Regions from separate parts of the Homo sapiens genome. Here regions 1, 2 and 4 are each linked to region 3. Evidence: fine-mapped expression QTL. A gene starts in region 3. Each other region holds a variant in brackets. All regions are shown on one strand. Distances are between the middles of the regions.

The links. PIP is the estimated chance that this variant, and not a neighbour inherited with it, causes the effect.
Region 1: its variant is fine-mapped to the expression of MYOF in whole blood (TOPMed, PIP above 0.99).
Region 2: its variant is fine-mapped to the expression of MYOF in whole blood (INTERVAL, PIP above 0.99).
Region 4: its variant is fine-mapped to the expression of MYOF in gastroesophageal junction (GTEx, PIP above 0.99).

What each region holds. Positions count from the first base shown.
Region 1 is chr10:93,409,386-93,417,490 of GRCh38, forward strand. MYOF (myoferlin) reads right to left here. Exons shown (of 54, transcript NM_013451.4): 6 at 188-354. Among named protein-coding and RNA genes, the nearest start is that of MYOF, 69 kb to the right of the region's middle. The variant C/A (reference allele first, on the strand shown) is at 3,634.
Region 2 is chr10:93,396,781-93,404,885 of GRCh38, forward strand. It overlaps MYOF (myoferlin), which reads right to left. Exons shown (of 54, transcript NM_013451.4): 8 at 7,377-7,439; 9 at 7,243-7,293; 10 at 6,080-6,110; 11 at 5,452-5,567; 12 at 4,638-4,764; 13 at 2,612-2,715; 14 at 608-676; 15 at 467-510. Among named protein-coding and RNA genes, the nearest start is that of MYOF, 82 kb to the right of the region's middle. The variant C/T (reference allele first, on the strand shown) is at 4,731.
Region 3 is chr10:93,477,442-93,485,546 of GRCh38, forward strand. It overlaps MYOF (myoferlin), which reads right to left and starts at 4,893. Exons shown (of 54, transcript NM_013451.4): 1 at 4,666-4,893. The coding sequence starts at 4,753.
Region 4 is chr10:93,456,035-93,464,139 of GRCh38, forward strand. It overlaps MYOF (myoferlin), which reads right to left. Exons shown (of 54, transcript NM_013451.4): 2 at 848-903. Among named protein-coding and RNA genes, the nearest start is that of MYOF, 22 kb to the right of the region's middle. RefSeq lists an enhancer at 3,766-4,388. The variant A/C (reference allele first, on the strand shown) is at 4,908.

The DNA of each region.
Region 1 (8,105 bases), 68 kb before region 3:
ACTAAACCCACTTGTGCCTGCAGAAGAAAGATGGAGAGCTTTTCTTACTGGGTTTATACACTGACATCTCTCTTTACCGGTTGAGCCATTGTCCATTGGAATAGGTCCACTGAAACATCACTGCAATTGCCAGAAGATGGGCAATATAAAGATTAAACAAAGAAGCAGAACGCCAGGCCGTTGCTACCTGGAAGTCCTGTGGCTTATTTGACAGCATCCGCCGGCTGTTCTTTACTTTGGTGAGCCTCCGAGCAAGCTGAGCTTCCGACACCGTCCCAACTGGCCCCTTGGGCCCAGGGCCCCTGACTGCATTGTCCAACCTGTCTTCATCACCTTCATCTTCTTCCCCATCTCCTAAAATATCAGAAAGAAACCCAGTGAGGGATAGCCCTTATCCTGTAAATGTCCAAAGGCTCAGGTTTCCAGGACACGGTTTTGTCTGCCATTATGTTTTAAGTGTTCCTAAAGTGGCAGGTGAAGGAGATCCTCTTGGTGACACTGACTTGGGACTTCTTGTGACTTGGAAAAATTCTTTAGGAAAATGTGTTCACAGTACATCGGGGCTGTTGCTCAGGTTGCCTTCGAAGAGACCAAGAGAATGGCAGAGATCACAGGGACAATGAGAGGAGATGGCACCGTTGGACCCAGCCAGGGATTGCTGAGTTCTCATTAGTGTTAGGATGGAAAAAGGAAGAAACATCACGGAACACTGCAGTCTTGCAATGACAAGCTTCAACTCCATCCCTCCCACTGCAGATCTTCTCTCTAGAGATCTGCTCGTGATCTATTTGTACTGTTTCCTGCTTGAGCCTCCTAATTCACAACTGCTCTTTCCACCCTAATGGCAGAAGAGAAACTCTCCTCATTTTCTTGCCAAGCACCAAGGTGATCATCTTGCTCTTCCTTCCTCCTCCTGGTTTGTCACTTTAACACACACGTGTCCCCTCCTTTATCCCTCTACCTTCCCTCTGCACTCAGGAAAAGGTTTACCCTGCTCAGCAGAGTGAAAATCTCAACCCTCTGCCATGCATTAGATCCTGCTACCTCCTGAATATTTGCAGATCCTACTACCTCCTGATTATTTTCAGGCTCCCCAAATGTCTCCTCTCTCTTGTGTACCTCTGGGGGTTCCGTCTCTATTGCAGCTTTTCCTCTGCCTTCAAGTAGACACAGATCTTTCTCTCCCTACAAAACCAAAAACCAAAAATCAACTCTGCCTACTACCTCTCCTCTTTCTTTTATTCACGAGCTCTTTGAAACTCGCTGACAAACTTTAGCTTTTCTTTTCTTAATACACAAAGAGTTAGAACTTCTGGTAATCTGTACAATATAATCTAAGAGAGCCTAGAAGACAAGCCACCCTGTCTAGAACCCTGCTTTTGGATTCTGAAACTCCTTCTCTACGATGCAAGATTATGAAAGAGATTTAATTTCCAAGGACAGTCACCTGTCAGTCATTCACATCCTGGTATGAATGAGTTTCATCAGATTACTATGTAGCATAGCTCTTGAAATCTTGGGCTCTGAAGCCACGTGGCCTAGGCTCAATCCACTCCCCACCCTCCACTTTCGAGCTATGTGAGTCTGAGTAAGTTTCTTAATTTCTCTAAGCTTCAGTTTCTTCATTTGTAAAGAGGGGAAAATAATAGTATTTACCACAGGGTTACTGTAAAGGTGTAATTATCTATAGGCGAAGCCTTTAGCACAGTATCTGGCATACAGAAGCACCCAATAAATTAACTGTTTATTTTTTAGTTTTGCTGTGTAATCAGTTTTGGTTGGTGTCTTCACCTGCTTGGGCTGCTATAACAAAATACCACAACCTGGGTGGCTTTTAGAAAACAGAAATTTATTTCTCACAGTTCTGGAGGTGGGGAAGTCCAAGATCAAGGCACCGGCGGATTCAGTGTCTGGTGAGGGCCCACTTCTTGGTTTGCAGTTGGAGCCTTCTCTGCCTCCCATGATGGAAGAAGCAAAGGAGCTCCCTTGAGCCCATTTTGATCACGGCACTAATCCCATGCATGAGGGCTCTGGCCCCGTGACCTAATCACCTCCCTAAAGGCCTCACTGCCTAATATCATCACGTTCAGGGTTAGGATTTCAATGTGTGAATTGTGGAGGGACACAACCATTCAGACCACTGCAATTGGAAGGGGCTTCTTCTGGAGCACAGGACACTTCCTGGAACCAGCTATGGGGGGTGTGGGGATGGGGCACTGGAGCAGTCCATGGGCAGCACAGCAGGCAGGGGTCCCAAAGTGAGGAAGAGGCAGCCACAAGGGAAAAGGGGGCCTCCACATGCACTGCTTTGCAATTTAGCCCAGGGTGGGCCCTGCTCCTCATCATCCATTCATTCATGCTTCGCCCATCCTAGCCTGGCTTCTGTTCTTCAAAAGTCAATCACCTCTCTTTGCCAAGCTCCGTGCCCTTTTCTGTATCTCCATATTGGATCTTCCACAGCCTTGGACACCAGTGCTCATATACATATTTTTAGATCATTGCAGCTCTCCTCCCCCGATCTGCTTTTTCAGGTTCTTCTGTGGGCCCCTGTTTTTGTCTCCTACTCACTGAGTGTGACTCCCTACTCTGTCCTCTGATCCTTTGACTCAACACTCTGTAGATCCTCACTTCACACTTCCTTCAAGTAGCCATGGACCCACAGAATGTTGTCCTAGAAGGGACCTTAGAGATCCTTGATCCAACCTACCCTTCACCCCATTTTACAGACAGAAAAACTGAGGTCCAGAAAGCTAAGGCAACTTGCCTGTGGTTAAGTTATTAGAAGCTGAGCTAAAACCAGGACCAAGTTTTCACACTGCCTCTCTGGTATAAAACTGGGTTTAAAACCAGGCTGTAGGTGAAGGACATGTTATGCTCCTAGTACCTCAACATCTTTTTCAGGCTACTGGGAAAACCTCATGGAAGTCAAAGATAAGGAATCTTTGTCCTCTGCAAGATGATCTGGACCTCCTCTTGCCTATTCTTGAAGAGACTTCAAAAGAAGGGCTTACCTGCTGTCTCTCTTAGGGCACCTGGATCCAAGCTCTTGGAATCTTCTTCATCCTACTCTCTACCAGGTAAGTTCCTCTCCTTCTTAAGTTTCAGATGAAACTTACTGTCTTCCAACATGCCCTCCCCACCTCTTCCAGATGGAGTTAGTCCCGCTCTCTCCTACCCGCCACACATTGTTCTTTCTAGTCCTCACCACATAGTCTTGCACCTGCTTGTCAACCCATAGGCTTCCCCTACTCCCAGGCATTTCAGAAGCAAGGAGCTTGCCTTTGCTTCTTTGTTTCTGCCCCATGCCTTACAGAACTCATTACACAAAGTATATAGAAAGTGCTTGATAAATGTGGAATGAGTAAACAAATGGGAAGGGGAACAGGATCCCAGGCACAAATGTGCCTTCACATTTGGAAAAACTACTGAACAACTCTCAGGAAAGAACACCCAGATGGCTGAAGGGGTGCTCCTCCCAACCTTGGCACCAGCCTCGGGGAAGCACTGGGGGCCAGGCGCTTCCCCTCGGTAAACCTGTCCTGGACCGAGCAATGGCTGGGGCTGACAGCTGTTGGGTTCCTCCAAGCAGCGAAGACGAACTTCCTTCCATCATCCTGGGCCTAAGTGGTACTT[C/A]CTCCTTGCCATAATTATAGCATTTTAGGCTGGTGATTTGTACTTCCTCCTTGCCATAATTACAGCATTTTAGGCTGGTGATTGTTTATGGCAGTAAGCAGGAGAAAAAGTCGGGGTCAATCATACCCCTTTGCAATGCTGGACTCTGGACAAGTACTTATTACATTCTCAGTGGATGCTCTAGAATCAGCCTGCAGATAACAAAGAACGTCTTCTGCTATTCAGACTTTAGGCTAAAGGGATGGGTCAGAGGAAACCAGCCTAAGCCATGGTGACAGCCAGCCTCTGTGCCTTGCAGCAGAAGAATATTCAAGCAGGAAACCTCCCCTTTATGTGGCAGGAAGCTGCAGAGGATTAAACAATGGTACGGGCTCCACAAAGAATGCTATGGGTTCCACAAAGAATGAGGGGGCCCCTATGGCACTGTTAAACACACCCTGATGTGCAAGCTGTGTCATGAGTGAAATGCTAGCAGTTGTGCTGGCAGGCCCTGTTCGTGAGACCCAGGCCTGAATGTGATCCACAGCCAAGTGGATCTACAAAGAGCAACTCTTTCACAACCACAGAGGGCCACACCAAGTCAGGAATCACCCACTGAACAGGAAGCTGCTGGTTGTATTAGCTTCTGAAGGCTGTCGCAGGAAGTCCCACAAACTGGGTGACTTAAAACAATAGAAATGTATTCTCTGGCTAGGCGCAGGGGCTCACACCTCTAATCCCAGTACTTTGGGAGGCCGAAGCAGGAGGATCGCTTGAGCCCAAGAGTTTGAGACCAGCCTGGGCAACATAGGGAGACCCCCCATCTCTACAAAAAAAATTTAAAAACTAGCCGGGTGTGGTGGTGCACACCTGTAGTCTGAGCTATTCGGGAGGCTAAGATGGGAGGACCATCTGAGCCCAGGAGGTCGAGGCTGCAGTGAGCCATGATCATGCCCTTGCACTCTGTCCTGGGTGACAGAGCAAGGAAAGAAAAAGAAAGGTAAGAAAAAGAAAAGAAAAGAAAGAAATGTATTCCCCGACAGTTCCAAACCTTACAAGTATAAAATCAAGATGTTGGCAGAGACGTTCTCTCTCTGAAGCCTCGAGGGAAAAATCCTTCCTGTCTCTTCCTAGCCAGTGGCTCCCGGCAATCCTGAGCATGCCCTGCCTGTGGCTGCATAACTCCAGTCTCTGCCTCTGTGTGGTCACACAGCCTTTCTCCTTCTGTGTCCTCCCGTCTTCTCATAAGAACAAGTGGGCCAGGTTTGGCGGCTCACACCTGTAAACCCAGCACTTTGGGAGGCTGAGGCGGGTGGATCACCTGAGGCCAGGAGTTCAAGACCAGCCTGGTCAACATGGCAAAGCCCCGTTTCTACTAAAAATATTAAAAAATTAGCCAGGTGTGGTGGCGTGCACCTGTGGTCCCAGCTACTTGGGAGGCTGAGGCAGGAGAATCGCTTGAACCTGGAAGGCAGAGGTTGCAGTGAGCTGAGATCATGCCCCTGCACTCCAGCCTGGGCATCAGAGAGAGCCTCTGTCTCAAAAAACAAAACAAACAAACAAGAAACTACAGTCACTGAATTTAGTGTGACTTTATCTTAACTAATTACATCTGCAAAGACCCTGTTTCCAAATAAGGTCATATTCTGAGGTTCCATATAGACATGCATTTTAGAGGGCCACTATTCAGTCCACTAGAGAGGCCATCTTTTTTGTTGTTTTTTGTGGTTTTGTGTTTTTGTTTGTTTGTTTGTTTGTTTTTTTGAGGTGGAGTCTCACTGTGTCATCCAGGCTGGAGTGTAGTGGTACAATTTCAGCTCACTGCAGCCTCTGCTTCCCAGGTTCAAGTGATTCTCCTACCTCAGCCTCCTGAGTAGCTGGGATTACAGGCACCTGCCACCACGCCCTGCTAATTTTTGTATTTTTAGTAGAGACGGGGTTTCGCCATGTTGGCCAGGCTGGCCTCGAACTCCTGACCTCAAGTGATCCACCCTCCTCGGCCTCCCAAAGTGCTGGGATTATAAGCGTGAGCCACCGCGCCTGGCTGAGAGGCCATCTTTTGTATCTTTCCAATTTGCTTCCTCTCTTACTCCAGCCCACAAGCAGCCCCAATCTAATGAGCACACTGCCTTCCCTGCACCCCACTTCCTCCATGTCTTTGCTTTACCCCTACCCCAGGTTAGATCCTGCCACCTAACACTGCAACCACCCCACTGCATGCCCCTCGATCCCTTTCCCCCTCTCACTTCACTGTGCTTACCTGGTTTATTCAACCCTCCACTGACTTCACCTCTGCACCCAGCCAGCTGAACTTGGCTGGGAAGCACACACATCTCACTGGACTGATCTCACTTTAATTTCCTGATCACAAACTGTAAGTGTCCTCACAGGGCTGCCTGGCCATCTTACCACATTTCCAAGATATCTATCCCAAAACTTTCCTGAATCCTGGTCTGAGATGGCCACTAATTAACCAGCACAGTCAAATCACTTTACCTTTCTGAACGGCCACCTGTTTTGCATCTTGAAAGCTTCCAACACCCTTTCTATCTTTCTCATTGTCCACTAATGACCTGGCTTCTTATTTCATTGAGAAAATTGGCAATTAGAAGATAATTTCCACATCTTTCCAACTCCAAATCAATCATCTACCTGTATCTGTTGCCTTCTCTCCTGCTACAATTAGTCACTGAACTATCTGTGCTCCCTGACTTGAAGCCAACTCTTCCGCATTTGCACAGATCCTATCTCCTGTTGCTACTTAAGGAGTTTTGCCTCTTTATACGTTCATCGGTTTCCCCCTTTCTACTGGATCATTCCCATCAAAATATAAACACGCTGAAATATCACCCAGAATATTAAAAAACAAAACTTTCATTGACTCCACGGTGCCCCCTACAGTTACTGCTCCATTTTTCCTGCCCCTCTTGGGAGCAAACTCCTCAGAAGAATCATTTTTACTCACATTCTTCACTCTGTCTCTGATTCTCATGCTTCTTCCAGCCAGCCCTCTGCCCTCCTAGTCCACCAAAACTGCTCTTGTCTAGGCCACTAAAGACTTTCATGTTGCAAAATCCAACGGTCCAGCCTCAGGTCTCTTCTTACTCAAACTTTCTGCAGCATTTGTTCATTTAATCCTTGAAACACTTTCTGCTCTTTGATTCAGCCTATTTGAACCAAAGCGCAGCTGCTCATCCTGGCATTCGCAAACAGAAGTAATCACCAAAGAAACTTCTCTCGGCCGGGCGTCGTGGCTCATGCCTGTAATCCCCACTTTGGGAGGCCAAGGCGGGTGGATCACCTGAGGTCAGGAGTTCAAGACCAGCCTGGCCAACAGGGCAAAACCCCTTCTCTAAAAATAAAATTTAAAAAAAAAATTAGCCAGGTGTGGTGGCAGGCGCCTGTAATCCCAGCTACTCGGGAGGCTGAGGCAGGAGAATCACTTGAGCCCAGAGGCAGAGGTTGCAGTGAGCCGAGATCGCGCCACTGCACTCCAGCCTCGGCAACAGAGCGAGACTCCATCTGAAGAAAAAAGAAAAAGAAAAAGAAACTTCTCTCATCCCATCTTCTTATAATATATGAACCCTGGCTTTGATCAGGCTTTTTTTTTTTTTTTTTGAGACAGAGTCTCACTTTGTCACCCAGGCTGGAGTGCAGTGGCATGACCTTGGCTCACTGCATCCTTCACCTCCTGGGTTCAAGGGATTCTCCAGCCTCAATCTCCCAAGTAGCTGGGACTATAGGCGCACACCACCACGCCTGGCTAATTTTTGTATTTTTAATAGAGACAGAGTTTTGCCATGTTGGCCAGGCTGGTCTTGAACTCCTGACCTCAAGTGATCCACCCACCTCAGTCTCTCAAAGTGCTGGGATTATAGGCGTGAGCCACTGCACCCGGCCATGACCAGGCCATTTTAATAGAATCATAGAACTTCGGAGCTGGAAGAGACCCTACATATTATTAAATCCAACCTCCTGATGTTGTAAGAAAGGAACTTGAGGCTCAGAGAGGTTAAGTGACATGCCTACTGTCACACAGCTTGATAGTGGAGCCAATGCTCAAATCCAGATCTGTTGATTCACAGTGGTTCAAGATTCCTCACTGTCCATCTCCGGCTATGACAAGCTCTTCACAACTCCCTTGTAGGAATGCCATCCTGCCTCTCCAATAATTATAATGTCACTTGGTCAAATCCTACAAAGCTTCTCACTGCATCCAACACTGACCTGTCTCCTTTCTGAATATCAGTAACTGCATGTGATCCACTCTTCTTTACTTGTGATGTTTCCGCTAACATTTGGAAATGGTTCTCCATCATAGCTCCAGCAATGTAATCATTCCTGAGATGTATTGTGATCCTCTTTCCAGACGCTCAGCAGCAATATTCCTGCCAACTGCCCTTGTGTGCAGTCACTTGTGATAATGACACTTGCCTACATGGCATCTGTCCACCCACTCAGTGCTGAAGAGTTGGCAGCCCTAGAGGACCTCG
Region 2 (8,105 bases), 81 kb before region 3:
ATGGCCAATCAGTGCTAGAAGGCTGGTCTACTAAAAATTCTATCAGAACATTTCAAGGACTTTTCCTTGCCTTCATTGAGGTAGTTTTACCATTTTCTTTTTAAACAATAACAATGAATTGCTCTCAGAATGTTTTGGTGATTCTTCCCAAGAAATGCTTGACTGTATTTCTGAAGTCTATTCTGGACAGCCTAATGATAATTAAATCCCTGATTTCTTATCTTGGGGCATTTTCAGCACGTTCCCCTTCTTTTGTTTATGAGCAGTTGAACCGAAATAATCGAAGCTTTTTTTGCAGTAACACTATTATTAAATTTTGTTTTAAGAAACGCCCAGTTCCAGGAGCAATTTATCCTCTCCTCTGGAAGGAAAGCAAAATACCAGAAAGAGACAATCCAGAGTAATGTTTCACAATATCCAATGTTTATTTTATGTTGAATTAGACACATACGTATTTTCAACTCACCAGTCATATATTGTTAGTTTTATTTTTTCACACACTGAAGGAAACTAAAAAAATGAGACAGAAAAAAGTAGTTATTTCTCAATGATTTAGTAATTATTAAGTAAGTATTCTTACTTTTTCAGAAAGAAAATAAAGTCAAACCTTGATCTGAAGATTGACGACCTGATTCCACTCTGGGTTTGCATTTTTCTCAATTATGTTTGTACAAACCTGTAAAATCACCAAAGCAAAAGTGTAGGTTTTCAAGTTTCTAATTTCTAAAAGTTTACAATCTATGCATACTAGATTATGACTTTAGCAGTTTACTTATATACTTAGGAACCTGGTTAAACTTTATTTTTCTTGATGATTTGTAAAATATGACATGGGTTTAATATTAATCATTGCTGTTTCGAGGCACTAGGAGCTTGCTTTTAACCTTTTTTTAATTAGTTTTCAATTGTCAGGCTTCTAACATTAGATTAATGTAAAAAAGCAAGAGATAAGGTTGATAGAGCATTTGTTACATACCGTTTGGGAAGCATCTACCATTAACACATCCAGACAGATCTTTTGACCCTGCCCGCCAGCCTCCCTGCCCTCTACCCCAAACTGACTCTTGTTCCAGTCTTTCCATCGCTCTTCATTCAGGTGGTCAGGCTCAGAACCAGAATCAGCCACACCCTGACACTTCCGTCTTCAAGCAGATCCTGGAATGTCTTCAAGCTGATCCTGAAATGTTTCTCCCCAGGACACCTGCGGTTGTCTATCTGAACTCCACACCCTCTCTTGCCTCCTGACTTTCATGTCACTTCTGTGTAACATCTTCAGGGGGCCCTCAAAGTACACTTCAAATAAAGCCCCAATCCTTCCCTGGGCTGATGAAGCCCTACTGTCCCAACCCTACTTCTCACTGACCTCCTAGTTTTCCCCGCTTGCTGGCTCTACCGCAGCCACATGGGCAGGCCTTCCCTGCTAACATTTTCTTCCTTGGGGCCCTTCCATCGCCCTTCTCCCTGCCTGGATGCCTCCCTCCCCAATCTCTGCATATCCAGGCCTCTGCTCAACTGTCACTTTCTCCAGGAGTCTCACCTGATAACCTGGATAAACACTCCTCCCCTGCACCAATCACTTCTTGTCCCTGCTTTGTTTTCTTTGTAGCACTGGGCACCATTTAAAATTATTCAGTTTCTTGTTTGCTTGTTTATTGTCTGTCTCTTCTATTCCCATGTGTTCGTTTCTATATCCCAGCACATGGGACAGAATCTGGTACTTAATGACTTTTTGAATGAATCAAACCTCTCAACAATCCTGTGATTGTTATTATCTCCCTTTATAGTTCAGGAAATGGAAACTCAGAGGGTAAACGATTTGCCTGCCTATGAAGTGGGGTAAAGCCTGAATTTAATTCAGGCCTCATTTTGCCCCAGAGCTGAAGGCTTTTCTACCACACCCACTGAATCTTTTAGAAAAAAGCACCAGTCATATGTGTATGTGTATGTGGTTTGCCGAATCTTGCTTTCATAATTATATGGTTCGAACACATAAAAGATGCTAGTTCTTTTTGTCTATAACTGTCCATGATGTGCTATTATTCTACTGTAGAATCTCACCCAACTCTCAACTCTCCAATCTTTGACCATCTCTGTAGGTAAAAGTGGTGGTTATAGCTGTCCCTACACCAAGAGTCTCCCAGATATTTTCAGGGGAGTGGGATGGGGCTTCCCTGACCCATTCTCTGGTTTCAACAGTTTACTGGGGCATGGAAGGTGAGAAACATGACAGGAAGGGGCAACAGGGCACTGGGGGGGGGTCTCTGTCCTACAACATTTACCAGGGATGGGTGTGGCTGGCCAGAGAGCTTGCCTAAGGTTAAGATAACGTTTGGACCTGAAAAGCAATTCCAGAAATTCAGTGGTAGCCTTCCCTATTTTAATCTCTCAAAAGATTGAATTTTCTAATTTGTGTTCTGCATACTTTCCACTCCAAAATAAACCTGTGGAGAAGTCTGGCGTGTTCAGACTCAGATAATCTGTGTTCCCTCAGAGTGCCTGGCTCATCAGGGGGCTATTTTAACAAAGAGTAAGCAGGAATTCACTCCAAGGAAAGCACAGTAGTTTTAGATATTTATTACTAGCAGCATCTGCATTTAGATCATGTACAAACCTTTTTTCCAGCAAAGGAAACTTCTACAAAAGGATCCACGAGATTTTTCTTATCTGCATTGCCTCCAAATATTTCCTTTACTGTCTGTGAGAAGGCATCATCCACTGGAAGGTAATAGTTATACAGCAGAAATTAAATTCAATTCCCAGAAATTTGGCAAAATTTTAAAAGTTCTCTTATACATCAAAATAGTTGCAACAGGCTAGGCGCAGTGGCTCATGCCTGTAATCCCAGGACTTTGAGAGGCCAAGGCTGGTGGATCATGAGGTCAGAAGAGCAAGGCCATCCTGGTCAACATGGTGAAACCCCTTCTCTATTGAAAATACAAAAATTAGCTGGGTGTGGTGGCACGCGCCTGTAATCCCAGCTACTCGGGAGGCTGAGGCAGGAGAACTGCTTGAACCTGGGAGGCGGAGATTGCAGTGAGCCAAGATCACACCACTGCAGTCCAGCCTGGTGACAGAGCAAGACTCCATCTCAAAACAAACAAACAAAATTAGCCAGGTGTGGTGGCACATGCCTGTAATCCCGGCCACTTGGGAGGCTGAGGCATGAGAATCACTTGAATCTTGCAGTTAGCCAAGATCAAGCCAGTATATGCCAGCCTCCAGCCTAGGTGACAGAGTGAGGCTCTATCTCAAAATAAAATAAAATAAAACAAAAACTTGATCTTTTATGGAGGAAAAAAAATACAACAAAGTTCATTCAGTGAGAGTAAAAGATGATTCTCAAACTCAGGCCTGCTTTCAATTGGGAGAAAGGTGCTCTAGGTCAAAATGATATAGTCCTAGTCTGTTTCAGAGAAATTCAAGAAAATTTGACATAATCACAAATAATATATTTAATCAACTACAATCTATAGTTAAGCTAAAAAGTAAATAGAGATCAGGATTTTAATTTACCTTATTTTATGTATTTCTTTCTTCTTCTTCTTCTTCTTTTTTTTTTTTTTAAATAGAGACAGTAGTCTTGCTATGTTGCCCAGGCTGGTCTTGAACTTTTGGCCTCAAGCAGTGCTCCTACCTTGGCCTTCCAAAGTGCTGGGATTATAGGCATGACCCACTGCCTCCAGCCCATTTGACACATTTTTGAGAGAAAGGTGGGTATGGGGAGGCCCTACAATACTATCTTTTAAGACCATAGGATCTTAAAAGAGGAAAAGGATTCCCAAGAAAAGCAGCAAATCCTGAAGAGATCCATGGCCTGTATAGTGAGTGCAGCCTCCTGGGGACTTGGAGAAGGGTCCCATGTCCCAGAGCCCAGCAGGAACCAGACAGGCCCAGCAAGGCAAATAGGAGGCTGGGCCATCAGCAGTGACAGAGGGATAACCACACTAGTTCCTATAAATGGAATCACTAGAAGCGATCCCTTAAATGCAACCAGTCTCTTGCTGAATATATTTCATAATACAATAGTGGCAGACTTCTAGTCATTGGGACATTACTACCCTTTGCTCAGCATGTTTTTTTTTTTTTTTTTTTTTTTGAGATGGAGTCTCACTCTGTTGCCCAGGCTGGAGTGCAGTGGTGTGGCTCACGGCAACCTCCGCCTCCTGGGTTCAAGTGATTCTCATGCCTCAGCCTCCCAGGTAGCTGGGATTATAGGCACCCGCCACCATGCCCAGCTAATTTCTGCTATTTTTTTTTTATAGCTGGATAGCAAACACCTTGATTTGATAATAACAGTTCACATTTTCATTTGGGATAAAAGGGGTTGGAAGTGCTGACTGCTCATATCTCTTTAGCATCCTCTAGAATAAAGAGAAGATATAGAATAGCAAGAGAGAGAGTCAAATGGGCCAAAGGCAGGTACTCAACAAGGAACATGATCAGCAACCAACTAGCTGTGCCATGAGCCTGCTCAGGTAGCTTTCAACTGGGCCAGAATGAATGAAAATAAGCCCATGAAGCCCTTTCAGAAGAAAAACATACGATAGGGACACGAATCACTATTAAAGTTTGATTTTTAACACATTTCATCACACACATAATCAACAATTCTGGGGCAAGATTAAATCAGTACATACTCTGGGGGATGTCCTCAGCTCGGTAGATTTTCAGCAAGAAGGTCACCCACCGGAGGGCAATGCCAGCAGGGAGTAACAAATTACTCTCCACAT[C/T]ATCACTGTCATTATCACGATCTCGTCTCTCAGGCTATTAGGGGCACATGATTTAAATTATACATACAGAAAAGCAGCACTTGGAAAAAGCCAAATTAATGCTTATAAAATGAAACCATTCAGAATCGTTTCCATTAAGATTTCCTGTGTTTGGGGCTTAAGAGTTCAGCCTGCCATCAGCCACCAGTTTTCCTTCAACCTCAAAACTGCTCCACAAAATCAATGCTCATGTTTTTGTATCATTCTGTCATTTTATGAGCACCAAATAGTAAGAGCCTGTGCGTGTGTGTGTGTGTGTGTGTGTGTGTGTGTGTGTGTGTGATCCTGATGTCCCTTCAACTTCTCTCTGGCCACTTATATTCTGCAGTTTGCCACCCAGTTTCCTAGAATAATCACTAACTATTTAGGTAGCAATGCCTAATTCTGCAAGTAGGTCATGCTTTCTAGATAAAAGCAGTCTTTCTAATGAGGCAAGGACGTTGTAAAAACACATTCATCGATTCTCAATTAAATGCTCACTCATAGACATCAGATAAGAGTTTAAGTAAGCTAGAACAATAATTCCATGATGAAGAAAAGAACAGCTTCTGAAGAATAGGGGGAATCTGAGGGTATTGACGGGAAGCTGTGCTCCATTTCACAATTACCCATGCCCACATGCTTAACTCTTGGCCTTCTTTTTTAGTGAGAAGTGTAGAAAGTAGAGAATGTAGGGACTCACAGGAGGCTCATCTCCGGTTCCCAGGACAAACATGCTGACTTTCATATAACCTTTAGAACCTGAACTGGTATCTTCCGGGTCATTGAGAAGAAGCCACTTTCTCATGACAGCATGGCCTAAAATAGAGAAGGAGTAAAAGGAAATGGACATGCTAAAAAGGTACTGATAAGTCTGTGATTCCTCTGCCATAAGATAAGCTGCATTTTCTTGGAAGCCTCTTCACGACACACCAAATTCCCCAGATGAGTGTCCACTTTCACGTCTTCTGTTTTGTACTCTCCCTACACCCCACCCCCACCATTCTGTCCTCGTGTAACTCAAACAAGACTCTCTAAGTTGTACCAACGAGTTTTATAATTTAATTTTGATAAGATCAAAATATCCTCACAAAACATAGAAATCATCTATTTTGAATGTTAAGATAAAAAATTAGACATTTTTTCTAAGCTACTGTTATTTATTCCCACTAAGTATCCTCTCCTCTCCCTCATTAAGAAAATATTTTTTAAAAAATTCCTTTAACTTTAATTCTTTGATCCCCCCCAAATTGTCTTGATTCTTAGAATCATCTTCAGAGTTAGAAGGAATGAATTTAAGACTTCATATTGATGGGGAGAACATTACTTACCAGGTTCATCATAAACAAATCCAACATCAATCTGGGAAAACAATAATCGAAAGTAGTCTAAGTAGATTTTAAAATCAGTCTAGTCACTTTAAAGAAGCCATCATTATATTTAAATATCATGTCTTGATTACACTTAAATTTCCTTGAGACCCAACATTTCCGTCTTATCCTCTCTGTATCCCCAGTGCCTTGTCTGATGTGTGGCACATGGAAGACCCTCAGTAAGTCACTATTGAATGAATGAGCTAGTCTTAGGGCTGGAAGGGACCACAGAAGCAGAGTGACCAATATGACCCAGTTTGCCTGGGTTATCCTCAGTTTTACCACTAAAGTCCCAGGCAAAGTGGGACCATTGGTCATCCTACAGAAATTCACCTGGCCCAATTTCCTGTCCAGTTCTCCTCCTCCTCCTCCTTCTCCTCCAGCTAATGCTACTATTAATATAACCATTGACTGGGCACTTCAATGTGCCAGGTGCTGTACTAGGTGCTTTACACATACTATCTCATTTAATTTTCTCAATGATCCCATTTTACAGATGAAGAAACTAAGGATCAGAGAGATTGAGTTCCTCTGGGACATGTGGCTACTTGGTGGCAGACAGGGTATGAACACAGGTCTGCCTGACCCAGATCATCCTCTAGGACTTCTAGTGACTGGTGCTCCTTTCTTGGAGAGGCAGCCTATTCCATGTAGAATTGCTGGGAAGAAGCCAACCAAGTATTTGTCCTTTCATTCCAGTGAGAGCTACTTATAGAAGCACCCTGAACCTCTTGCCTTGTTTGGCTTTCCTTTCACACTCTGAATTTACCATAATTGGCTTTGCAGATGGAGCTTTGGGGCCCCCAGTAAGTGGAGGTAGATGGTGGACTTCTTGCCATGGTCAACACCCCTTCCCTTTGTGGCAGTGGATTTGCTTCCATCCAGATACAACCCTGGGAAGGGCCCTGATATGGCAGCTTCAGGGCATCTTGCTTTGAGAGCTCTGTTCACTGTTATACTTTGGAAATAGACAAGCCCCAAGCAGCCTTCAGCAAGTGTCATCATGCTGAACCCTTACACATTCCCAAGATGCCACCAAGATGCGTACATAGGAATCAGATTTCTATTATGAAAGTTCTCATCTTTCTGTAAGTTGAATGAAGCAGACTGTTGTCACTCACCTTAAATTCCCCCATCAGACAATCTGCCCGCAGAGAGTGAGAATTATAAACCTGGAAGAAAGAAGAGTAGTGAAGAAATGATTGGCTTTGCCTGGCAGTGAGTGAGCAGTACCTTCCTACTTGCTGACCCTTACCCGGATGCTGATGATCTCATCCATCAATTCAGAAGGGGTCATGTTGACATTGTAGAAAAACAACTGCCAAAACAATAGAGCAGATGTTTAAATGTTAACAGGGGATTCGGGTTAGGGGAATCTGATACTATAATTTTGGGGGCCCTCCTAAAAAATGCAAAACACAAATTCAAAATTAGGTTTGACCATGTGAACACATGGCAAGGCCTGGAGTTTAAGCCCTGCAGTTTAAGCTTCATGGTAAACCCACTTCTTCATGTTGGAAAAAGGAGAAAAGGGTAAGTAACAAATATAGCATTTACTTAACTAAAGAAAATTGTTCACCTGGGGCTAGATATCTAAAAGCTAAATAATGTAAAGATCCAAAGCTAAGCAGGTATCGGGGTACACCCCTGTAATCCCAACACTCAGTAGGCTGAGATGGGAGGAGTGCTTGAGCCCAGGAGTTCAAGACCAGCCAGGACAATATAGTGAGAGGCCATCTCAAAAAAAAAAAAAAAAAAAAAGGGAAAAAGATCCAAGGTGACTTCATGCTGCAATGCTTATCAAAATGAGCGCTTAGAGCTGGCATGACCTGGAGTGTGTTTTAAATTTCTCTAATATCTTTAGCTCTATTAGTGTCTAGTGACTCTAATTTTACTCCAAGAAAGCACCTTTCAAGACAATTTTGCCCATTAGATTAAGTTAGTGCCTCAGCAAAGTCAATATTGACCACATTGTAAAAGCTAA
Region 3 (8,105 bases):
AGATTATGCCACTGCACTCCAGCCTGGGCAACAAGAGCGAAACTCTGTGTAAAAAAAGAAAAAAGAAAAACACACACAAACACACACAAAGATAGAAGCTGTGCTTTTGAAATGTGCATATTCATGGCCGGGCGCAGTGGCTCACGCCTGTAATCCCAGCACTTTGGGAGGCCAAGGCAGGCGGATCATGAGGCCAGGAGTTCAAGACCAGCCTGACCAACATGGTGAAACCCTGTCTCTACTAAAAATACAAAAATTAGCCGGGCGTGATGGCGGGCGCCTGTAATCCCAGCTACTTAGGAGGCTGAGGCAGGAGAATCGCTTGAACCCAGGAGGTGGAGGTTGCAGTGAGCCGAGATCATACCATTGCACTCCAGCCTGGGTGACAGAGCGAGACTCCATCTAAAAAATAAATAAATAAATAAAAATGAAATATGCATATTCACAAAGACACGCACCACAGGGACACCCACTGCAGTACTGTTGCTAACAGGCAGTAGTTGGGACAACTTATATGTCTAGAGCAAAAGATCAAGAAGGATTCAAATCAAATTGTTCAGAGTGGTGACCCTGAAGGACTAACAGTGGGAGAGAGAAAGAATAGAAGAGGTGTGGGGAGAATTTTCACTTTTTAGTTGCATAATCCCTTCTGGGTTGTTTATCTTATGTCTACATGCATTTTTAATTTTAGAAATTAAAAATATTATATTATTTAAAATTAAAAAGTTTTTTAACAACCTGTTCTGTTTGGAGGACTGTTTGGAAGAATCATCAAGTCTCAGAGTTGAAATTGGTCTCAGAGGTCTGTGTAGTCTAATCTCAGCTAGATTCAGCTTCACAGCCTGGCTGTCCGCATGGAACTTAGGGCAGAATGGCCACCCCTGGCTCACAGGCACTCACTCCAGCCTCAATTCGGATCTGGCTCATGGAACCTGGTGTACCCGAAGGATATGAAAAATTACATAAGCGTTGTGGCTTTCATAATCTACACCTGCGCTGCTGAACATCACCAACAACCATGCACCAGGACTACAGCAACCCCCAGATCCTCCTAGTTCCTACCAGGCCCTGAGTAATTTGACAGCCTCAGAAGGGTCACTCACGGTTGAACACAACTGGGCGCTCATACCTGTAATCCCAATACTTTGGGAGGCCAAGCCAGGAGGATTGCTTGAGCCCAAGAGTTCAAGGCCAGCTTGAGAAACAGAGTGAGGCCCTGTCTCTACAAAAAAAATTAAAAATTAGCTGGGCATGGTGGTGTGTGCCTATAGTTCAGCTACTCAGGAGGCTGAGGTGGGAGGATCGCTTGAGCCCAGGAGTTCGAGACCATGATCACACCACTGACTGCACTCTTCCCTCCTGGATGGCAGGGTGAAACAGTCTCAAAAAAAAAAAAAAAAAAGAAAGAAAGAAAGAAAGGGTTTGAACACGAAAAACTGAGGTCAACTGTAAACCAGTTGGTTGTCAGTACAGCACAATCCCAAGTACAGTGTAGCTATAGCCTAATAGGGCCTCACAGTGTCTATGCGAGCTTCACCATTAACAATCACTTCCCCTGGCCATTCTTCACCGTCTTATAGTTTGAGAAGAGCTGCTTACTGCCCTGACTTTGTTTATTTACCCAAGAGGCAAAATGTTTACATATTTCTGTTAACACAGGGACTTTCTTTGATGCCGCCTTGATCTTCTGGTATGGCTTTTTCCTTTTTTTTTTTTTGAGATGGAGTCTCGTTCTATCTCCCAGGCTGGAGTGCAGTGGTGCGATCTCTGCTCACTGGAACCTCCGCCTCCCAGGCTCAAGTGATTCTCCTGCCTCAGCCTCCTGAGTAGCTGGGACTACAGGCATGGTAGGGCTTTTTCCAGTTTACCATACCCTGCCCCACTCCACACTATGAAGTGTGTCTGCCTTTGTTCCATGTTCCCTCTGATGGACAGTATTTTGCTATAAGTATCCTCAGTTCAGTCAGAACTTAATGTTACTTAATTTTACGCAGTGCTCAAAATTGGGAACACACCTGTAAAGGGTTTGCCATCACCAGGATTTTAAACCACCGACATAGACTGAAAGCAAGAAGAGTGCTGTGTTTGTTGCTATATCCCCTCCAGCACCTAAGGCAATGCATTTCACATCTTGCTGAGAGCAGCTAACTCAATACCTGGAACTAGAAAATTAGAATCTAAAAGACGGAAGGCATCTAAAGACCAGTTCCCATCATGCCACAGCTGAGAAATTGGAGACCCAGGTGGTTAAATCAGATATTGAGTTAATGTCAGCTGGAATGCAGATGTTCCTACTCTGAGTTGAGTGCCCTTTCCTCTGTCAGGTTGCTTGTTAGCTAAATGAATGAATGACTTTACCACTCGATTTGTATGAAAAAAGGAGGCCAGAAAAGAGACTAAAGTTAAATGTGTAATTGTTTGTATAGACTATATTTGCCAACTTAACTGAAGTTTTCCACTTTCAATTGATTGTTTGCATTCATTGACTTAGATATATTTTTCATCATTTAAAATGTTTCATCAATGCATACAAACTCCAGACAAATAACAAGTCAGATTTCAATATAGTATTAACTCCAATTCCTCTATAATCTATAATACTTAAATAATTACATGATCGGACTGATCCAAATATATTTTAATGTCTTTATATGTCAATGATGAAGGATGTAAAATCTTCATATTATGTCTCTATTATGTAACTGCTTCAAGAAAACAAAAAATTAATAAAACCTAACACATGTAAATAAACTCTGACATAACGTGAGTCCATGATATTCACTAGCCAGATTTTCAAACCTCATTGTCCTTTAAGAGCCCAATTTTAAGCTGGGCGTGGTAGTTTACGCCTGTAATCCCAACACTTTGGGAAGCTGAGATGGGAAGAAAGTTTGAGCAAGGGAATTATAACCAGCCTGGGCAACATAGCAAGACCCAGTCTTATTCAAAAAAATTTTTTTAAATTTTTTTTAAATCCAATTTTTGCCCTTTAGATTTTTTTTTTAACCAACCAACAATTTGCCAGCTTTTTTTTTTTTTTTTTTTTTTTTTTGAGACGGAGTCTCACTCTGTTGCCCAGGTTGGAGTGCAGTAGCATGATCTCGGCTCACTGCAACCTCCTCCTCCTGGGTTGAAGCAATCCTCCTGCCTCAGCCTCCCGAGTAGCTGGGATTATAGGCATGTGCCACCATGCCCGGCTAATTTTTGTATTTTTAGTAGAGATGGGGTTTTGCCATGTTGGCCTGGCTGGTCTCGAACTCCTGCCCTCATGTGATCCACCCACCTCAGCCTCCCAAAGTTCTGGGATTACAGGCAGAAGTCACCACACCCAGCCAGCCAGCTTTGAGTTTCATTTCTTTCATTTTCTTGCTCATCCTCAGAGAGAGAGGTTTAAGAAGAGAAATAAAGGGGAAAAACGGGAAACAGAAAGGCGAAAGGTATAGATGCCTCAGGAACTGACAGGGAGTAGCAGTCAGGCTCCTGGAAGAAACGAGAAATGTAGCAAGGCATGGTCAGGAAACACATGTCTATCCATGCTCCCACTCTCTCTGCCTTTCCCTCTCTTTCCCATCCCTCTTGCCAAGAAGTGAGTTGGCAGTCTTACCAATGACAAACAAAATAGATAAAGCCTCCACACTGAGATTTAGAAACCCCACTTTAGCCAAAACTAAGTCACTTACATCAAATTGTACCATGACACCAAGCATTCCTGTCCCCTCCCCTGCAATGGCAATCAAGTGTCATAGAAAAATAGCCTTTTAAAATTACCATGAGCCTTTTATTTTTATTTATTTTTACACCCAGGCTGGAGTGCAGTGGCGTGATCACGGCTCACTGTAGCCTCAAACTCCTGGGCTCAAGCAATCCTCCTGCCTTGGCCTCCCAAAGTTGGCTCAGGGTTGAGGAGCCACTGTGCTCAGCCAACCATGAGGTTTTTAGAGATGATCTTGTCTAAACCCTTCTCGCCTGTTTTGCAGAAAAGAAAATTGAGATCCCAGAGAAATGAAGTAACTTGCCCAAGGTCATTCAGCAGGCAAGATAGAACTAGATCCCCAAATTGCAAACTAGCTGTCCAGAGTTCTTTCCTCAATGAGCAATTTAAAAGCTACAGAATGTACAAAAAAAGCTCCCCAACAGTTTAGATATAAAAACAATTACAAAGGCACAAAAGGGCAGGAAAACTCAATAAAACTATGAACTTCACCCATCCCACCTCCCAGAAACCCAGTGACAATCAAAGCAGCGTCAGGCTGGTTCAAGGAGTAATGGTGTCTCCAACAATTTAATTGCTCTTCTTCCTCCTTTACCCATTTCTCACAGGCAGAGAAAAAATGCATCTAAGACTACTGAAACTTACTTTGAACCAATACAGATGTTTGTTGATACCTGAAATTTAGTGATTCGCAAATACGTTTTCTGCCAAGAGCTTACAGAAATCACACTCTTAGAGCTAAAACATCAGGTCATTCCATGAGTCTCAAGCCCTGGAGAAAATTAAATGCCTTCCCCAGAAACGGGTCCTCTCCCCTGTCCTGCGCAGGTAACAAACGCTGCTGGAGAGACTTGGCTTCATCAGCTGTCTAAATGCAGACTTTTCAAGAAGGTGACTCAAGAAACTAACATTCCAAAACAGGACTTCAGAAAAAGAAGAAAACTTTTTCTTACCCTTAAAAATGACAGAAACAATAGGATCCGGCTTGCCAAATTTCGTTTTAGGGATATTGCTGGCAGATTCCACAATCACTCGCAGCATGGTTCTTAGCTGGTAGAAAGCAAGTTTCAGCAAACGAAGTGGAGACTAGGGCGCTGGAGCTCCGGGTCGCACCGCCCTGGGAGAGAAGTTCTCTCCCAGTGAAGGGAGGATTTCTCCCAGGGCAAGGAAGGGGAAAAGGCAAAATGGGTGGACCTCTGGCGGATTTTACTGAAGGCAACGTGTAAACTGATACCGAACTCCCCGCGTCTACGCAGTGCCGCAGGCACAGACTTATGAATTCGGGAAATGTGGAAGTGAAAAGGACAAACCCTAAACTAAAAATAATTCCGTGCGACAAATGAAACCAACATGAATTTGGAGCTAAGAAATACGGGTAGGTCAGGAAACCACTAAAATGTTGCTGCCTTTTAGCAATGGTTCGTGAAACTGAATTAATTGATTTTTCCGTCACTGCTTTCATTCTTTTCTGAGTTTCAAGGAGTTTTAAAACTTTAGTCATTATTTGCTTTTGACTTTTCGCTGTTACTTCTCACGCCATTGAACACACCCACTCAGTAACCCTATGTTCAGCTTTTTTAAAGCAGCTAAAGGGTGCCTCTTACTGGACGGCAAACGAATGACAGCGTTTATTTCAAGTAAACGCGATCCAGGCATGGGATATATAAATAATTACATATATGTATAAATAATTATATATATATATATATATATATATATATATATATATATATATATATATATATATATATAAAGGACTGAACATAGAATTTCTTCAAAACCCCTTCAGAGGTGAGAGCTGGGCGCCTAAGTTTTCCCGGCTCTTCAAATGCTGCCAATTGCCTTCAGTGAAAATGGAGAAGTGACTCCCCACTGTTTCTGGACCTACAGCTGCCCATGGTGTCTTTCTGTCCCAGAGGGTGCATGAAGACAGTGCAGCTTGGCTGAGATCACAAGAGGCGGCCTGGGGTTAGTCAGCCAGATCTGAGTGTGAGACTCTGCCTCACCACCCTGAGCTACGTCATCTTAGCAAGTTTCTTTTCTTTTCTTTTCTTTTCTTTTTTTTTTTTGACGGAGTCTCGCTCTGTCACCAGGCTGGAGTGCAGTGTAGCGATCTTGGCTCACTGCAACCTCTGCCTCCCGGGTTCAAGCGATTCTCCTGCCTCAGTCTCCCGAGTAGCTGGGACTACAGGCGTGCGCCACCACACGCAGCTAATTTTTTTTTTTTTTGTATTTTTAGTAGAGACGGGGTTTCACCATGCTGGCAAGGATGGTCTCGATCTCTTGACCTTGTGATCCGCCCGCCTCGGCCTCCGTGGCTTGAGCTTTACTGGCTTGAGCTTTACTGGCTTGAGCCACCGTGCTGGCGAGCAAGTTTCTTAACCCCTCTCTTCCTCAGTTTCCTCATCTATGAACTGGGGATAAAGGCTGTTATAAGATAAAGGTCATAGCATAGGAGCTGGCACAAAGCACACAGTAATTTGCACATGTAAGAAGTTCATGCTTATTTGTGGTCTCACAGCGTTTCTGTTAGTGCAGGCTGACTTTAAATCAGGATCTCGTTATATTTCAGAAGAAAAGGCTAAAACTTGGGATGAAGAAACATTGGGCTTCTTTTTGCTTTAGAACACACATCAAGCAGACCCACCTGTAAATAAACATTTCAAGTACATTGAATAAGCATGACTTAACCTACAAGAATTCTTCTGTCTCCACGAGTTTCTCCAAGGCTTAAAGCAAAGAACCAATTACCCAGTGCTGTGTTCATTATTGTATTTAGTGGACATGTTGGCAGTTTTAGTGGAATATAGAGATTATTACTTTTATTTTATCTGGCTGCTTTCTATTTGCCATTTTTACTGTGAAATATATTTACAGAAAAATGCATACTACATAAACGTGACAGTTTAACAAGCATCCAGGTCAAGACAGAACATTGCCAGTCCTCCAGAAGCCCCTGGAATACCCCATATATCATATCCACCTCCTTCTCCCAGAGGTAACCACTCTCCTGATTTTTTTTTCTTTTTTTAGATGGAGTTTCACTCTTGTTGCCCAGGCTGGATTGAAGTGGGGTGATCGGCTCACTGCCACCTCCACCTCCCGGGTTCAAGCAATTCTCCTGCCTCAGCCTCCCAGGTAGCTGGGATTACAGGCGTGCACTACCACACCCGGCTAATTTTGTATTTTTAGTAGAGACAGGGTTTCACCGTGTTGGCCAGGCTGGTCTCAAACTCCTGACCTCAGGTGATCCATCCACCTCGGCCTCCCAAAGTGCTGGGATTACAGGCATGAGCCACCATGCCTGGCCCACTCTCCTGATTTTTATGGTAATGATTTCCTTGCTTTTCTTTGTAGTTTTTACCGAAAACAACAACAACAAAACAGTTTAGGTTTGCTTGCTCATGACCTTTGTTTGGTGATATAAATTCTTTTGTATGTTATGAACTTTACATACAACACATATATTCATATATATAGGTACACACATACATGTGTTCATACTTTGTGAATTCTTTGCTGTATTATGACTTTATAGAAATGGACTCATACAGAATGGATTCTTTCGTGTTTGACTTCTTTTTTCTCAGTATTATATTGTGAAATTCATTCATGTAGCTCTACTTCCTTCACTCTTGTTGCTATATGGCATTTCATTGTATGAGTTTCTGACATTTTATTTATTTATTTATTTTGAGACAGAGTCTTGCTCTGTAGCCCAGGCTGGAGTGCAGTGGTGCGATCTCGTTTCACTGCAACCTCTGCCTCCCGGGTTCAAGCAATTCTCCTGCCTCAGCCTCCTGAGTAGCTGGGATTACAGGTGCACACCACCACGCCCGGCTAATTTTTGTATCTTTAGTAGAGATGGGGTGTCACCATGTTGGCCAGGATGTTCTCGAACTCTTTACCTCGTGATCCGCCTGCCTCAGCCTCCCAAAGTGCTGGGATTACAGGCATGAGCCACTGCGCCTGGCCTCCAGATTTGATTAATTCATTCTACTACTGCCAGACATTTGGACAGTTCAGGGAATGGGGCTATTACAAACAGTGCTGTTCTGAACAGTCCAAGACTGTTCTGGCACAAATGTGCATGAGTCTATTTAGAGTCTAATCTATGGGTGGAATTGCTTGCTGGGCCAGAGAATGTATGCATTTCTTCACCTTTACAAGGTAATTCCAAATTATATTCCACAATGGTACTCTTGCCAGCAGTGTATGAGACTTCCTGTTGTTCTAAATTTTTGTCATACTTAACCAATGTTAGATTTTTTACATTTGCCCTTCTGGTGAGCATATAATAGCATCTCACTGGAGTTTTAATTTGCCTTTTACCTATTCATGTGGGAGAAAAAGACAAATGACTTCCAACCTTACATAATACATAATCAATTAC
Region 4 (8,105 bases), 21 kb before region 3:
AGGTAAATAAGTTATATGTCTTCAGTAGAATATTGCACAGTCATTAAAATACTTTTGAATTTTATGCTTTTGAATTATTAAAATAATTTTATGCTTTTGAATTAAAATACTTTTGAATTATTAAAATAATTTTGAATTAATATGGGCATATGCTTAGGATATAATAGCAAGAAAGTGTAGGAGAGGAAATCATTTGCTATATGCTGCTAGTTTGTGTTATCAGATGTCGTATTTCATTAAATATATTCCTCCAATAAACACTTAGTGATACATCACAGATGTTAATAGTAGTTGCCTCTAGAGAGTGGGACCCAAGTTAATTTTTTAAAGATTAATTGAAGTTTTCAAAAGTTTCCACATGAAGCATACTGGACATCACTTTTATCAACATAAAACCAATACATGTCATTACCCAGCTAGACACACAGAGAATCATGTGATACACTCTTGATTTGTCACATGCAGACATGTTTTTAATTATGAGGCCTTCCTTCTGAGACTCTGGAGATGATCTAATCCCACCCTTGCTCTGCACATGTGCCCCAGATATGCAACATAAGTGGACCAAGCTCACACAGCAAGCTCGTGGCGGTGCCTGGTAAGAACTCAACTCTCCTGCCAGTCCAGGCTTCCCTTGCCGCGCCACTGCTGTACAGAAGATGGTCGCTGGTGAGCTACTCTCCTTGAACTGCTCTGCTCTCTTGGTGAACACAAAGGGAAACGGAGTGGGTGGGGGTGAAATGTAGAGATTCTCCTTCCGAAGGGAAGAGGTAACCTCTCACCCAAAGATAGGACAATCAGAAATAGCTTATCTATTAAAACAAAGTTGAAAAAACAATGAAGTCACCTCATTCCAGACAGGGTTCAATTCATTATCAACTTTCTTTGTTTTCTTTTTCTCATCTGCAAAAGAGATAAAGGAAGAGACAGCAATCATTTATAAAAAAATTAAAGAGCGTGGGCCATTCATTTATTCTAAGAACATTACCCAAGGGTCTACTTGCACCCACATCTCCCCATTCATCGCTTAGGATGGGTGTTTACCTGAATCACAGTTTTCCAAATGAAATGGCATTTTTTGGTCTACAAGGTTTTCCCATCTCCAGGTCTACATGGAGTTAAGGGATGTGATGTTCTGCCCTTCTCTCACCAAGGCTACCCAGAGCCTCTGCATCTCTGGCTTGCTGCAGAAAGAAGCCAACAAAGCTAACCTCTGAGATGCTGATATTGCTATTTTATAGATGAGGATATTGAGGCTCAAAGAGTTAAGACGTTTATCTGAGCTCACACCTGGCAGTGATGCCCTGATTTAAACCTGGAATTTCAGCTCTGAAGCTCATGCTGCATCTGAGTGTGCTAAGATGCCAACACAGCTTCAATATTAAGCTGGACTCCCTCCCATAGGCTTCGGTACAAGGTCATTAGTAGATGAAAACTTTCTAAGACCAGCGGATAATTTGGGGCTTCCTTTACTCCGAGGCCACCTTTTCTGAAGACACAAGATCTTTCTTCTCTGTGTCTGAGCCTGGACAGTACACCTACCTGGATGAGCACACGAGCAAATCCAGCAAGTGCTTAAAGTTTCCTTGTAGCAAAGTCCAAAGAGCAGAGGCTTCTTTTGGGTCCCCAAGTCCCCAAATACCTACCCAAATAAAAGCTAATCTTCGAGTACAAAATGCTTTGTCAGCATTATCTCATCTAATTTTTTTTTTTTTTTGAGACAGGGTCTCGCGAGGTCGCCCAGGCTGGAGTATAGTGGCACTATTTCGGCTCACTGCAACCTCTGCCTCCCAGCTCAAGAGATCCTCCCACCTCGGCGCCCCATGTAGTTGGGACCACAGGTGCACACCACCACACCCAGCTAATTTTTCTATGTTTTTTTTTTTTTCACTAGAGATGGGGTTTTGCCATGTTGCCCAGGCTGGTCTCAAACCCCTGAGCTCAAGTGATCCACCTGCCTCAGCCTCCCAAAGTGCTGGGATTACAGGTATGAGCCACTGCGCCCGGCATTCATCTAATCTTAAAAACCTAGGAGAAGCCAGGTGAGGTGGTGCACGCCTGTAATCCCAGCACTTATGGAGGCCAAGGTGGGAGGATTGTTTGAGCCTAGGAGTTCAAGACCAGCGTAGGCAACATAATGAAACCCCATCTCTACAAAAATACAACAATTAGCTCTGTGTGGTGGCACACACCTATAGGTTCCAGCTACTCAGGAGGCTGAGGTGGGAGGATCCCTTGAGCCCAGGAGGTCAAGGCTGCAGTGAGCCAAGATCACACCACTGCACTCCAGCCTGGGAAACAAAGCAAGACCCTGTCCAAAAACAAAAAACAAACCCTAGGAGGTATATATTACTATTTTCATCCCCCTTTCACAGCTAAGGAAACTGAGAAGCTGAGTAACATTCAAAGTCACCCAGTTGGCTGGGTGCGGTGGCTGACACCTGTAATCCCAGCACTTTGGGAGGCCAAGGCGGGCAGATCACTTGAGGTCAGGAGACCAGCCTGGCCAACATGGTGAAACCCCACTTCTACTAAAAATACAAAAATTAGCCAGGCATGGTGATGGGTGCCTATTATCCCAGCTACTCGGGAGGCTGAGGCAGGAGAATCACTTGAACCCAGGAGGCAGAGGTTGCAGTAAGCCGAGATCGTGTCACTGCACTCCAGCCTAAAGGATAGAGCGAGACTCAGTCTCAAAACAAAAAACAAATAAGTCACCCAGTTAATAAATGGTCTTGCTAGGATTTGAGACCCAGGCAGTCTCACATTAGTGGCCACACTTTGAATCACTCCTCAGCCTTTGCTTCTCCTCTGCTGCTGTGGAATGTAGGAGGTAGTGGGTTTTGTTTAGCTAATGTCACATTGCTTTGGCTCCCAGCACACAGCTGCCTGTGGGACTAACCACCTCATTCTTCCAAGACCTCAGCATAGCAAGGCCGTGAGTCATGGACCTCACTCTGCTAAGCATTAACTTTTCCACTTGAGAGGGCAACACACAGCCCAATGGCTTCCCTTCCTAAGCTTCAGCGTGACGCTCCTCGTCGGCTTGTGCCCAGACCTATCCTGGCTGGTTCTGCCTGTGCTCTCTCTATGTGGCCTACAGAGCCCCTCACTGCATCTGACTCTGAGGTCCCCTAGACGCTGTCCAGAAACTTCCCCTCCCACACTTCCATTTTGACCCCACCCTTCCCTCTCCTCATCTAACAGAAACTCCCAATCCTCCTCTCTGGTTACAGTATAAGAAAGTGCTCTTGAGAGAAACAGGAGACATGCAAAGAATTTTTAACTTAAATAGAACTGGACAAAATGGTTTCTATGTGTAATTGTAGCTGCTCCCTCTACAGAATCATCTCTAGGTGCCAGGCTGTGCATTCTACCACAGTGTCTCTAACCATTGAGACAATTCTTCCAGGTAAACATGGTCATTCCCATTTCTAAGCCAAGAAAATGGAGAGTAGTTAACCTGCCTTCAATCACACAGCTAATAAGGAAACAGCCAGATTTTGAACTACATCCCTCTGGCTCCAAAATCTGTGTTTGTGTGTGTTTGCCACCATGCCACAGTGCCTTATTGGAAGCTGTCAGAAATGCTGGATAATGAAGATTCGTAAATGTAACACATGTGATGGGCTTGGCGTCTTGGAAAATGTCCATAAGGAAGTTTATGGTTGCGTTCCAGGGTATCCTGAAACTCTCCAAGATTATTTGCTCTAATACACAAAATATTGCATCTGTGAGTTTTCTTGGAGGAAAGAGCTCATTGTTCTCATCAGATTCTCAAATGTGCTTGAAAAAGGTTAGGAATCCCAGCATTCAACAAGCATGAAATAGTACCACCAATCTCCCTCTACCTTACCACTACCCTGCTCCCATAACCGGGGCTTGGGGGGGTGGAGAACTGAGTCTCAAAGGAGTGGATCTGGACCCTGAGACCATGGCGGTCCTTCAAGAGAGAAGATAGGAGATTCCAAGAAGTCCCAGCAAGAAGGGAAAGCAAGGAGAAGGCAGAAAATAATGCAATAGAAACTGAGCACCCAGGCTTGGGGTAGGATTTGCATCACTGAAAGATGGCACTGAAGCAAAATTCCAGTCTCCAAGTCCCCAAGACTCCAACCAGGGAGCCAAGGCAGGGACAAGGGCTCCAGGGAGGTCACAGAAAAAACCAGCGCTTGTCAACATGAAACAAGTCCCAAGCCTGGTTCCTGACCCAGGAAACAGAGAACACGGAAGACACGCTGCAAGCTACCTTGAGGCCAAGCCTGGGACCATGGATCCTCTCTGCCCTCAGGAGGCACAGGATTGTTCCAGAGTCAGCAGCTGGGGAGTGTGAAAAGATTCATTTGTTCATTCATTCATTCACAAACATTTATTAAGCATCCACTGTGTGCCAGTAACAGGAAACAGAAGAGTGTAAGATAATTCTTAGTCTTAAAAAGTTCCACAGGCTGGCTGGACATGGCGGCTCACGCCTGTAATCCTAGCACTTTGGGAGGCCAAGGCGGGTGGACTGCCTGAGCTCAGGAGTTCGAGACCAGCCTGGACAACATGGGTGAAACCCCGTCTCTACTAAAATACAAAAAATATTAGCCGGGCATGGTGGTGGACGCCTGCAGTCCCAGCCACTCGAGAGGCTGAGGCAGGAGAATTGCTTGAACCCAGGAGGCGGAAGTTGCAGTGAGCCGAGATCAAGCCACTGCACTCCAGCCTGGGCAACAGAGCAAGACCCCATCTCCAAAAAAAAAAAAAAAAAAGAAAGAAAAAGAAAAAAAAAGTGCCACAGGCCAGGTGCGGTGGCTGACACCTGTAATCCCAGCACTGTGGGAGGCTGAGGCAGGCGGATCACCTGAGGTCAGAAGTTTGAGACCAGCCTGGCCAACTTGGTGAAACCCATCTCTACTAAAAATACA[A/C]AATTTAGCCATGCATGGTGGTGGGCACCTGTAATCCCCGATACTCGGGTGGCTGAGGCAGGAGAATCGCTTGAACCTGGGAGGCGGAAGTTGCAGTGAGCCTAGATCGCGCCATTGCACTCCAGCCTGGCAACAAGAGCAAAACTCCATCTAAGAAAAGAAAAGAAAAGAAATAGCACAAAGCTCCACCAGGCTTTTGCCTGTCTCATTCTCATCCTGAAGTTTCTTCCTGCCTGTCAGAGGGGGAATAAACAGAAATAATGACTGGTCAGCTCAGGCCAAGAGACCTCACAGCTCAGCCCACAGAAATGGTTCACTGAGTGAGTTCTTCCGCAAACATTAATCAGCTCCTTCATTCTTCCACCCAACAAATGTTTGTGAAATTGCCAGGCATTGAGCACTGTAGGAGACACAAAAATACCCAAGACATGGTTCCTGCCCTCAGGGGGTCTAGTGGGGAGAGGAAATGTGGCTATACGGGACTGATAGAGAAAGGACTTCAGTTGCTATCAGAGGGGTATCAATGCACAGAAAAATTCAGAGGAAAGAAAGGTGACTTCAGGCTGTGTGCACAGAAGATGCAGAGGCTGAGCTAGATGAGAATTCAAGGGCAAGGAGGGGTTGAAAATGTGGAGCCAGAAGACGAGCTCACTCCAGTAGACACAATAGGGTGGGTGGATCAGGCATGGAGGAGGGAGAACCAGTTATGTCACATCTGGGGACACTCCAGGACCCAACCAGCTGGAACCAAAGAGCATAGAACTGGGTAGGGGGCAAACGGGCTTTGTGGGAAGGTTATGGTCTCACTGTGAAGCCTCAAGTACCAGGCTAAGCTTCATTTGGCTGATATAAGTACTTAAAGGAGGAGGGTATTAGAAACTGGATTTTATAACTTCAAAATTTTATAACTCATGAGAAAAACCAAGTGGCCCAACAATTCTCCCAATGCATGTTCCTGAACACATGATTCAATTGTGTGTTGAAAACAAAGGGGAGTGGCTGAGTCCAGGCAGATGCCAGTTGACCACAGACCAGGTGGAGCTATTCAACCAGAACTTCCTGCAGCTCCTGGCACTCATTGTGTGAGGTTGATGCTAATGGCATTACCTCTAGGGGATGCTCACTGCAGGCTGGGCATTGCTAAGCCCCCCACCTTTTTTTTTTTTTGAGTTAGAGTCTCACTGTGTTGCCCAGGCTGGAGTGCAATGGCACGCTCTTTGCTCACTACAATCTCTCTCCTGCCTCAGCCTCCTGAGTAGCTAGGATTACAGGTGTGTGCCACCACACCCAGCTAATTTTTATATTTTTAGTAAAGACAGGGTTTCCCCATGTTGGCCAGGCTAGTCTCGAACTCCTGACCTCAAGTGATCCGCTCACCTCGGCCTCCCAAAGTGCTGGGATTACAGGCGTGAGACACCGTGCCCGGCCTGCTAAGCCCTTTACATGCATCATTTCATTGAATCCTCCTGGCAAGCCTATGACGTAGGCACTGTTTTATTATCCTCAGTTTGCAGAGAAGCAAAGAGAGCCCAGAATGGTTAGGTAACTTGCTCAAGATCACAGGGCTAGGACGAAGCCCTCTAACCAGGTCTAGTATGACTCCTGAGCCCATGCATTTAACCACTGCACCTCCCATTTCCCTAGCTAATAAGGAAAAACTAAGTGGCTGGCATTGGCTCCTACCCTTCTGGAGAAACCCAGCTCAATCTCTTTCAAGAAGGAGGCTCTGATGTTTATCAAAATGTGTATATGTTACATTTTATTGAAAACCTATTCTCACACATAAACACATCAGGCAAAAAAAAAAAAAGTAGATAAATTATTTTTCTTATCAGCAGCCAGTCACATATTTATATTAGTCAATTATTTTATTCTACCTCTGTAAAAATAAAAAAAAAAGGTTAAACCTGCAGGCACTGAACATCAAATTGAATTACAGGAAACTCCCTCCCCTTTCTCCACATTACCTACCCCCCAACCTGGCTCCTGCGTCTAATTTTATTAAGATGACTGTTTCTTCCTATGGAAAGCAATAAAATATTTTCAGCTCAGAACATAACAACTGACTCAAATGCAGAGCACACTCTGAGTGTGCTCAAGGGCTCAAGTCGTTCTTCAGGACATTTCCTGTTTTCCGATTAGCTACGCCTGCCTCTCACTCAGTTCTGCGGAGGTCACCACTGCAGTAATTAACCCCAATGCCAGCCTCCAAACAAGGTTTCCGGGAGAACTGAACAGCTCTCTTAGCCAAACCACCCGCCCTCTTGCGCGGAACCATTTCCTTTGCTGTTCACCTACCAGCCAGTGTGTCAGAACCTTATTGAAAAGGCCTGGCCCAGTGCGGTGCTTATACCTGTAATCCCAACATTTTGGAAGGCCAAGGCCAGAGGATCGCTTGAGTCCAGGAGTTCAAGACCAGCCTGGGCAACATAGTGAGACTTCGTCTCTACAAATTTTTTTTTTTTTTTTTTTTTTTGAGAGGGAGTCTCACTCTGTCGCCCAGGATCTAGTGCAGTGGTGCAATCTTGGCTCATTGCAACATCCGCCTCCTGTGTTCAAGTGATTCTCCTGCCTCAGCCTGCCGAGTAGCTGAGATTACAGGTGCCCACCACCATGCCCGGCTAATTTTTGTATTTTAGTAGAGATGGGGGTTTCACCATTTTGGTCAGGCTGGTCTCAAACTCCTGACCTCAAATGATCCACCCGTCTCGGCCTCCCAAAGTGCTGCAATTACAGGCGTGAGGCACCACACCCGGCCCATCTCTACAAAATATTTAAAAATTAACCAGGCATACTGGCATGCACCAATAGTCCCAGCTACTCAGGAGGCTGAGGTGGGAGGATTGCTTGAGCTTGGGAGGTCAAGGCTGCAGTGGCCACACCCCTGCACTTCATCCTGGGTGTTAGAGCAAGACCCTGTCTCAAAAAAAAAAAAAAAAAAAAAAGGCCTGAAAGACATCAGGACTCCTGAGACTGGCTTGCTACATCTGTGCCGGTGGTCAGCTGCGCTGGTTCATTTTAATGTCAAGTTGGCTAGGCTATGGTGGTGTCTAATTGTTTGGTCAAACATAAGTCCAGATGTTGCTGTCGAGGTATTTTGTAGATGTGATAAACATTTACACTCAGTTGACTTTAAGTAAAGCAAAATTACCCTCTATAATTTAGATGGGCCTCATCCAAACAGTTGAAGGTCTTAAA